2 separate regions of the Homo sapiens genome follow, and region 1 is linked to region 2. The links come from fine-mapping of genetic effects on gene expression. A gene starts in region 2. The other region holds a variant in brackets. All regions are shown on one strand. Distances are between the middles of the regions. Region 1 overlaps GABRR3 (gamma-aminobutyric acid type A receptor subunit rho3). Region 2 holds the start of CRYBG3 (crystallin beta-gamma domain containing 3).

Evidence for each region.
Region 1: its variant is fine-mapped to the expression of CRYBG3 in whole blood (INTERVAL, PIP above 0.99). The same link has a PIP of 0.9 or more in B cells.

What each region holds. Positions count from the first base shown.
Region 1 is chr3:98,000,370-98,005,369 of GRCh38, forward strand. GABRR3 (gamma-aminobutyric acid type A receptor subunit rho3) reads right to left here. Exons shown (of 10, transcript NM_001105580.3): 8 at 1,246-1,398. Among named protein-coding and RNA genes, the nearest start is that of RIOX2, 30 kb to the left of the region's middle. The variant T/C (reference allele first, on the strand shown) is at 3,118.
Region 2 is chr3:97,819,270-97,824,801 of GRCh38, forward strand. CRYBG3 (crystallin beta-gamma domain containing 3) reads left to right here and starts at 2,742. Exons shown (of 22, transcript NM_153605.4): 1 at 2,742-3,086. The coding sequence starts at 2,938. LOC101929298 (a long non-coding RNA gene) reads right to left here and starts at 2,507. Exons shown (of 3, transcript XR_427389.3): 1 at 2,418-2,507. RefSeq lists a silencer at 2,519-2,888.

The DNA.
Region 1 (5,000 bases), 180 kb after region 2:
AGTGCTTTCCTCATTGTGTCTAGAGGGCTGGAAATGTGCCCTTGGTCTTGTATTTGGGTCTATGCTGCCACACTGCAGTACTGAGGTTAGGGCACATGCTCTGATGTGAAGAAACAGTTCAAATAATTTAATTACTTATTCAGATGGTATTTTTTCCTTGAAGATATTCAAGTCTCAAATGCTTGTAGATTGAATATTTTAATAGGGAAAGGAGGTGAGCAAATTGTTAATATTAATAATTTATGTCTTTCAAATGATCTTTTGAAGTATGCATATAATTTGTGAACATTAACTTACAAACCACCCTTTCTGGAATGAATTGTGTGATAATTACAATAATTGTAACAATGATTGTAATAATAACAATCTCCTCTCTAGATAGAGCACTACAAATGAAAGAGCAAAATCAGATAAAATGAGGGGGATCAGCCCTGACCAGCAAAAAAGGCAAGTGGGATTATCTCTTGGGTTCTCATTAAGTAACATGTCATCTAAGTGCTTAGCTTGGTATCTTCTACTTTCTAAGATCTCAATAACTGCTAAGTGGGTCTGAAATGGTTCCCATAAATCAGTGTGTGTGACAGAGGCATATAGCATGTTAGACGGTGTAGATAATCAACCCTGTGTAGTGACTTAATGAGGCTGGCAACGTCTCTCCACCTAAAATCTCCTGCCAACTAATATGCCACTGTACCTGAAATTCCACTGTGGTTGATTCTGATTTTGGTCTTTTAGTTAAGTCCTAATTTCTAATCAGTATTCATATTTTCAAATTCAAGCATCCCTTCCACATTCTTGTTAACCCACCAAGGTAATTTGTTATTAATACACTAAGAGTATAGTGTGAATTAGTTTGAAGGTTTTCCTTTCTGTGATGTAAGGGTTTGTCCTGAAAAGCTAAATGGACTTGTATAAAGCATGGGGAGGTTTTCTTAAAAAAGAAAAGAGATAAGCTTTAAAAGTGAGGCTGTTTATGCTTCATAATTTCACCCCCTTTCTTTACTATCACCCAACTGCAGGTCAGTCAGCAAAGACTTCATCCCTAAAATCCGGGTTCCCAAGGAAAGAACTCAATTACAATTTGCCCTTGAGGATGTCAAGATCGATACTGCAACCTGGATGTTCATCTCTGACTATCCCTACTAAACCACCACTCTCTTTTCCTCTCCATGTATGACCCATTTTATTTACCTCCCTTGAACTTTCTCCCATGTTAACATTTTATAAAGATGGGGAAAGATTTACCCAGGGAAACTCTTGCAGGAACAGCTCTTCGGTCAATCCAAAATGAAACCCATGAAAGCATCACCATCAATATGGCTGGGAAATAGGTTTGCAGCACAAAGAAGAAAACATGCCTCCTTAGCACAAAGTTGATGAAAAGCCTATTGTACCAACCTGTGGAAAAAAGCCAAAGTTTTCATTAGAGCAAGCTTCCCCTTAGAAACACTGCACTTAGTGAAATGACCTGCTTCTTTAGACTCCAAGCTCTTGGGGACACGGAATTTGACAAACTCATCTCCATTTAGTTGGGCCTGGCACTCCATCAACATTTGTTCAACCAGCTGAACTGCAGTCTGCTTAATTATTTGACTCAAAGATCCCCTTTAACTTCCAAACCCGCAGTTCAGGGATGAATAGTGGTTATCTTTTGTGGGATGGCCTCTAAAGATCTGTCTCCACAATATATTGTATTGTGGCGTTTCTGCAAGAGGGAAAGTCTTCAATACATGACTAATAATGGCATAAAAGAACCAATAAACCATTTATTAGCTATAACAAATGAAAAAAACATTTAACTGAATGAAAAGATTCAGAGTATGTACTAGGTCATTGGATTTTGACCTGAGATGGAGACAGCTGGGGATTCAAAGGAGAAAGAAAACAGCATCCATAAGCTAGTTTTACAATTTTAAAGTCTCACAAGTACCATAATTTGTGCATGATGAATCTGCAAAAAAGTAACCAACTGATGTTTCTTTGCTTCCTATTGAAATTATATAAACTCACGTTGGTAATATTAACTGCGCTAATTAAAAGCACCATTTGTGGTGACATCCACACACACATTTTGTTCAGGTTTACCTCTCCCATTGACTACAAGGAAGTTTAAAGCCAAATTTTCAGACATCTACAGGACTTCTCTGAGCACCATTCTTTAATGACCACATACACATACCAGGATATATATAATACCTTATCCTTGTTTTTCTTTTTTTTCTCATACATTTCTAATTTATATTACCTTGCTTTATTTCACAATAACTATGTGCTAATCTTGTTAAATCTTTACTAAAATAAGGCAATACATGAGGAAACATGGAAATACATCTTTTCTGAATAAGTAGCAAGATTTTTTTTCTATGATAAATGCTGTTTATTTTCAAATAACATTATTCAAAACACAGGGACTATAGGTCAAAAGTTATAAAATAAAAATCATAGGTATTGCAGAGTTGGAAAACCCTTCTGCTAGTCTCAGCAGTAATTTCTTAGAAACCCAAGACGGCAAACCTATTAGATGGATCACTTAAGTACTTAGGCATTTGGCCTAAGAAATACACCTGGCCAACCCACACTGAACTGGCAGACTCTACTCTTAGAATCCTATTCTCAATGAAATACTCATTATCTTTTTCTTCCTTACCTAGTTCTAAGCTTCTAACAGTCAGTTTATATATGTTCAGGAATACCAAACAATTTTATTACCAGGAGTAATAAAATATACATCACATAGTACATTATAAAGTTAAAATATAAATTATTTTTAAGCTTCTCATTGTCTTGTATCACCTACATCACAGCCCCAATTTATTACTGTGTACCACTGAGAGTTTCAGTGATGGCTGTAGAGTACAATAACAGCTTTCTGACCTTACAACTTTATATAACTACTGTGAGGTTAAAAGAAATAAGGAAAACCTGTGAAAGAAATTCAAAAGAAAGACAGTATTAAGGTATATAGTTTTCTGTTCATTATTAACTTGAAATAAAATTAGTTAACTGCATCCTTTCTTTATTCATAATTTTCTGAAGAACAGTTGTCCTTTTTTTTTTTTTTTGGTGGGGTGGGGGCAGGGTGGAGTAACCAGGAAGTCAAACTGTGGCTCTGTCTTG[T/C]GGTTTTAGACTAGGGGTGGTATTTTAGTTGAACCTGCAGGTCATGGGGAGTCCATTTCCCTATCAGGAAAGGTGGTGCTGCCTTGGAACGTTGTGAAGCCTTCATTTTGGGTAGTACAATAAAAAGTCTGATTCTATTTTTGATGTTTGACTGCTAAAAGCTCTCAAGCCCAACTTCTCCTTCTGCCCTACATCTGAGCAAGTTAATAAAAAGCCTAGGTCTCTTTTTGGCACCTGTGAAAAGTTCAAACCATGCATCTTGTCCTACGACAGGCAGCCTTCACCCTAGCTGCACCCCCTAGCTACCATAAAAACCCAAGCCAGTAGCCCCTTCCTGTTTTCTCAAGCCATTTTTCATTTCAGACCTGCTTGGGAGCCTGCCCATCTCTCTCTAGAAAGCCTCATTATGTAAGTAATAAATCACTTCATACCCTTTTGTCATGTGTATGGCATCATCAGTTTTGGCATCTGAACTAAATTTTGGATGGGGACGGGTACATCTGCCTCCATTAGTTTGCCATACAGTAGAAAGAAGAGGAGTTAATAACAGAGAGAAAAAGGCTAGAGAGTTGGCACCCAGGGAAATGGAGGACTGGGCCAGTATTTGGGGAGTCAGTCCCAAGACAAGAATAAAGAAGGTTTTTATACCTAGAGACAGTCACCTTCAATGGCCCTTTGAAAGTAGGCCTTAATACTCTCTATGAAAAGGATCAAAATAATGTGGATGAAAATAGGGTGATGATGACAGCTACTAACTAATATTTATTGAGCCTCTATTATATGGCAGATAACATTCTAAGGTACTTAACTATATGACATCATGTATCCTCACAACCCTATGATATAGAGAGTATTATGAAACCCATTTAAAGATGAGAAAGTTAAGGGTTAGAGAGATTAAGCAACTTGTCCAAGGTCAGGTTGCTAATAAATGATAGAGACAGGGTTTGAACTTAGGCAGTCTGTTTCTACTACTTACACATTCAGCCATTAGATTATGCTATGATAAAGAATAATTATTCAATGCATCCCTTAGGGGCAGGAGTCATTTCTTTTTTCTTTGTAAATTTATAGTGCATGATTTTGAGAATTTTGAGAAAGGGATCAGGAGGCAGAAGCCCTCATCTGCTTGTTAATATTGCCAGGTCGTGGTGATTTTTGAACAGTGGCAACGGTAGTGGTGAAGGCCAAGAAAAAAAAAAAAACACCCTGTTGTTCAGCTGTAAAATGGAAACTAAGGTCCTATAACTATATTTCTGACTCTTATAGCCAGAGTCAGATGTATAGTTTTTCTATACACCTGGGAGTGGTGGTTGTGGCTGGTAGTTGTAAGGATAGGAGTGAAGAAAACAAATCAAAAATTATTTTTGAGGAAGCTAAAATATTTAAACAGGAAACTAGTCTGAAAAAGACACTTGAGTTTGTCAGAAGATTATGTTTAATGATTCGTGGATAATGTGAGGCAGAGCTATCACATGCTCATGAACTAAAATAAGTTTCTAAATGTAATCTTTCCGAAACCTAACTAAGGGATGGTTAAATGAACCCAGATATGATTATTGATTTGATATTTGAATACAACTTCCAAAATGCCTCCCTTCGGCATTTTTCCTACCAATCTCTGTCATTAAAAAAAATGGGTATATTGTAACAAATTAAAAAATACAAGTGTTTTTTGTACCTACTTCTCAGAGGTATCTATTGTTAATCTTTCTAGGCTTTTAACACACACACACACACACACACACACACACACGATATGCACAGATATGTATATAAGCACTCATGCACTCATAAATATGTATACATACATTCTTCAATAACAAATATGGGATTTTTAAAATATATTCTTCCGTAACTTGCTTTTAAAGAATATTAATGTA
Region 2 (5,532 bases):
CCAATATGGTCAAACCCCGTCTCTACTGAAAATACAAAAATTAGCTGGGCATGGTGGTGGGCGCCTGTAGTCCCAGCCACTCTGGAGGCTGAGACAGGAGAATTGCTTGAACCCAGGAGGCGGAGGTTTCAGTGAGTTGAAATTGCACCACTGCACCCCAGCCAAGGTGACAGCGCCAGACTCTGTCTCAAAAAAAAAATTAAATATACTGCATTATTGAATATATTATTGCTATGAGAGAAATTACATCAATCGGAGGCAATCCTTCCTGTTGAAACTTTGTCTTCTGATGCCTGGAATAATTTTCCACATGACACCTGATGCTGCTTTACCTTTCAAATCTTGTCTCACCTCTATTACCCACATATTTTCAGTGTCAGAGACCACAGAATATATCTCCTCTGGCTCTGCATCTTGGGTGTAATACTTGGTGAGCTGCGCTACAAACAAATTGGAATTTAAGAAATAACTATACTTTGGAGAGGCTGGAAACCACATAAATATATTCCACTAAGTCCAAACTAAATATATTCCCAACTGAAATTCCCTAGCAGATTCCCAAATGCTCTTGATAACTCTAAGTGGAAAAGAAAATCTAAGTGGACATCTAAGTGGAAAAAAAAAGAGATTGTGGTCTTAATCACATTAAAACATTTACTTTTGTAAATTTGATAAAACTGGCCATGGATCCCATTGCTGAGTTCACACTGGAAGAGACTGTGCCAGCAGGGAGCCAAGAAACTTGAGCCTCATCGGCTTCACTGTAGATGTGCTTCTACTGCAGGCACTCACTAAACGTCGGGGAATAACTGGATCAGTGAATTAATGACACTGTGCTAAATTAGTATCTCTAAGATCCTTACAGCTCTAAAATTTGACATTTTTACAGGCTTCCTAATGCAATCTTAGAATTTAGTATTTAGAAATTTGTTCATATGAGTTCAGGTTATAACAATGTAGGACATATAGAAAACTAATAAGTGCTCAGAAAGCAAATGAAGGAAAATTCAATGGTCATTGTTTTATGACTTTAAGCTATTTTGTCATAGACGCAATTTGTCTTAGTGTAAACATGGCATTATTTGTATTTACCATTCACTTAAGTGCTTTGCTGTGCTACCGAGTGGAGATCAGAGTATTGTTAGATATATTATTAGTTAAAACCATAATTCATTAATTAAATCCTATTGACTCCCCCCCATTTTTATTCCAAGAAAAACTTCCTGAACGAAGTACCCTCTGGGTAGGCACTGGGGCCTGGTTTGATCACAGAACAAGTCAGGGACAAATGTGATAGTCATTCAATAATACGTTGGGAAGACAAATTATCATTTGGGCCTTTTAGCTGGAAGAAACAGTTTGCTTTATTACTCTCTTTGGGCTTTTTGGTAAGTGGGTCTTCAGTGGAGATTCTCTTATAAAATAATAAAGCTAGAATTGGGAACTTGTCTTATTCTAGTCTATTATCTTAGTCTTTTTCTATTTTCTCAGACTAGGCTCACAGAGAAATAGGAAAAATTTACCAAAGAGTAAAAAAGGATTAATCTTGAGGGATAGACTGAGATGAACCCGATTGATGGAAATCGGGCTGACTGAACTTTAATGGGTTAAATCCTGCCAGAACAAATGAGAATGAGTGTCTTGGCTCTATTGCAGTTAGTAGGAGCTGGAGGGCTTCTGGGAGGCAGCGTGGGGAGGCAGGGAGGCTCAATAGCCTCCAGCAGGTGCTGAAAGGACTTGGGGCTTATAGGTATGCAATCTACTTATGAGCAACCTTCTCCTCCAGCACCCGAAAGCCAGAGGGGAGATTACTCCAAGGCTCCCCTCTGCTGTGGACATTTCATTTTTATCTCATTTACTTGTATACATTTTTTAATGAACAAAAGCCATATCACTTCCTTGACGTCTACTCCAGGGGCAGCTTGCCTTCAAACAAAAACAAAACACTTGGGGTGAATGGGCCTCTCAGTATCTCCTGTACTAGCTGCTATAGGGTATGAAAAACCAAGAAAAATCCATACCACTGTACTTAGACTTAAAACAAGTCTTAAGCACCCTTTGGTTCCCAGATTTCAGTGGCATCTGTGTAACGACTGCAAAATATGTTGCAGCATTGACAAGCTTGAAATCATACTTTTTGATCAGTGCCGTTTTTGAAAGAGTTCGCAGGGAAGTATGGCGTGTGAAAAGTCTGAAGCACAGCGCGGTTAGGAAAAGTCACACCACAGAAAGCCAGCAGAACGCGCCGGGAGGTGGTGACCGCCTGACAGGTACCCCCTTCTCCCTCCCGCCGCCCGGTTCTGTGCTAACGCGACTTTCGCCCTCAGGGTTGGAGCTGTATTTGCGGTAGCTGTTTCTTAGCTCCCAGCAAGTCCGGGGCGCCCCGGTACTGCAGTTTGCCAAGTGTTTTCACAAACCTTAGTTCATAAACCTCTTTCAAAAGCCCGAAGAAAACCGTTTCTGTGCTCTGACTGTAGAATAGAAAACACAACGGTCACAGAAAGTAATTGAAGGCAAAGCCCAACAGGCTGCAGCCTGAACTTGTTTGAGCCGTAAGCCCGAGCCTAGCGTCGCACGCTGGGCGACTCCCCTCAGGCTCTCAGGCCGGCGCCTTCGGGGGACCACGTAGCGCCCCAGCGGTGGCGGCTGCGCCCGGCTCAGGGCGGTGCCGCGGCCACTGGCTCCTCCTCGGGGTGGGGCGGGCCGCGCCGGGCGAGGGCGGGAGGAGGAGCAGCCGCAGCGGCGTGAGGAGCTGCCGCGCGAGGAGCGCGTCGCGTCCGCACTTCTCCTGCCCGAGAGAGACTGAGCCGCGCTGGCAGCTCGCGTCGAGTCGGTCTGCCCTAGCCGCATCCCGCGGCGCCCGGTCGGGCTCCGGGCACCAGGCAACACCTAGGCCGTTCCCTTCAGACAGCCCCGGGCCAGCGGCCCCCTCGGGAAATGTCCAGCGGCCGCAGAAGGGGCAGCGCCCCCTGGCACAGCTTCTCCCGGTTCTTCGCTCCCCGAAGTCCTTCCCGGGACAAGGAAGAGGAAGAGGAGGAGAGGCCGGGGACGAGCCCGCCTCCAGCTCCAGGCCGGTCCGCTGCCAGGTGGGAGTCGAGGAGGGGGTCGCGGGGGGGCCCTGCACATATTCGCGGGATGAAGGCTCCCGGCCTGACCGCCGGCAGCGGGCCGCTCTTGGGCCAGGCTGCAGTTCGCTCGCCACTTTCTGTTCTCCTTCCTCCATTGCTAAAGTTTCCTCCTCCTTGCCCCGTTCCCGTGCCGCACTACTCGCCTCTCCTCTGCAGGTTAAATCGGGGTGAAGTTCTTGCCCGGCAGCCGGACGCATATCCCCCGATCCCCGCCTGGCTCCGCGCTCTTCCTTTCCCACTTTCCCCTGCCCGGACGTGATTGGGTTCCCGTTCCACACACGCTCTACTCTCCAAGTTCTGTGGCAAAAGCGATTTCCCCGGCGTCCCGCCTGCAGTAATGGGAAACACTTGTGAGCCGAGCGGAGCCGTCGGCCAGGGGAATTGGGGGCGCGATCCCAGCACCACTTGTGTGGGAGGAGATCGGGGCAAAAGTGGAAAAGGTAAAGCTTTGGGGCGTCACCCCCTCAGCTGGTATTTTTGCCATCTTATTTAAATTTTCTCAAAATGATTTTTAAAAGGAATTGTGATAATGCGTTCCCAAGACTTTCACCAAAATGGACTGGACATGTAAATGACGCCACCCTTCTTTATTTCTCATCTCTCCTAGAAACATCTGCCTCAAGTTCCCAAACAGATTCTGGAAATCAGGTTTCCAGCTGTCTTGGTTTCAGTAATCAAAATGTACCCTTTCTCTGTAATATTTTTATCTTTCCTTCACTTTCCCATGTTCAAAAATCAAAAAATTTTAGACATGCCTCATTTAAATGCCTGTTTCTGAGTCTTTTCATCCCCCCGAAGAAAGAGGGGTTAAGTAAAACGCAGCTCGCTTTCTTAAACTTATGAGAGGCTTACACTGTCTTCTCCCGAGATTGCACTAGAATGACCATTGTCATTGGAAGGACACACTCCAGAAAACCGTGTTTACTTCGGACTCAAGATTTCCTGGTGGGCTTAAAAAAAATGGATAGGAAACAGAACTGAGAGTGAGCCAATTCCATTAGTATTCAGATTTTGTGATGTGATTTTAGTCGTTTGTGTGTTCCTCGGTTTCCCCGCTTGTGAAACATTTTCATTATGACCGTCTGTTAATAACATGCCACATGTTTCCAAGAAAGCTCCTACGATAATTGAGTGGTTATTCTCCTGGGACGTTTCAGCTATTATTGCTCTGACTGTTGAGAGTTTAAAATTCAAAGTTACACAGAAGTTAAAAATAGTTTTTAAGTCTGACAGATCTCATCCAGGGTGTCAGCTAGTTCTGTTGGTGTGGGCAGACAGCCTGTGGTGCCTGCCACCGCCGTAACAGCACTAACAGTCTTGGATAATATGAACGCAGTCTGCAAGGAAATCCCAAGTAGGCGCAGCAAAAGTTGGGAACTTGAGAGTCAGTGTTAGAAAGGAGTAAGCAGGTCAAATTCAGGCTCATGTCAGTAATGGCCTGAAATCCTGCTTGCCTCTCTGCCCTATTTTGGCTTTTTAAGGCACTTCTCAATTCTAATTTCTTTACTGACTGGAGCTGACCCCTCCAGCAACTAGTTCCTTGTTCACCTACCACTTCTCTATTCTCATCATCTCCAGATTGGCACAAATTATGGCTTTTCAACGATGAAGATTTTAATTGTGCTTATATCAACGCTAATTTTGTTCTCATCTTTTTTGGAACTTGCCAGATGTTAGGGGGATAGCAGATGACCCTTTATGTGGGTGTTTTACTGTTTTAAATGAGCTTAAATCTTTCATTTCAAGGGCATAAACAAACACAAAGCCTTTATTGAAAGTTTAATAAAACAAATGGAACCGCTTTATAGTACTGAATGTCCCAGTAACACAACACCCTGATGTTAACAAGATTGGAAACAGAATTGCAATTTGTCACTGTGATCTTATTTCAAAATGAAAGAGTATTTTGGCTATTTCTCTTTGTGGGCATAAAAACTTTTATCATTATGAGAGCTGGGTATACCTTCTGTAGTGATGATTTTAGATGAAGAGGAGTACAAAATTAAAAAATAAACTAAAACATAATTATGAGACCCGTAAAAGTCGAATTTACAACATCCTGAAACTGTTTTTTTGCCTGCTCACAAAATGCGTACTGGGACAAACACCAGGTCTTTGGGGAGCTGCCATGCCTTGATACAGGTCTTCCAATATTTTACTGTTTTGAACCATAGGAAAATCTTTGTTTTTATGGTGTGCTGTGATTTATATGGGCTTCAGTTGGTGACAACACTTCATTATGTATTCTTTCTTTGTCACAATTAAAGAAGGCCTATTAGCATCAACACTATTGTATATCCCAACTTAGGCGTAGGCACTCAAATTGCTTGATTGTACTCATATTAGGTGGTTGACCATTTCCAGGAAATGCTTATATTAATTTATTTTAGATGATAAAAAGGAA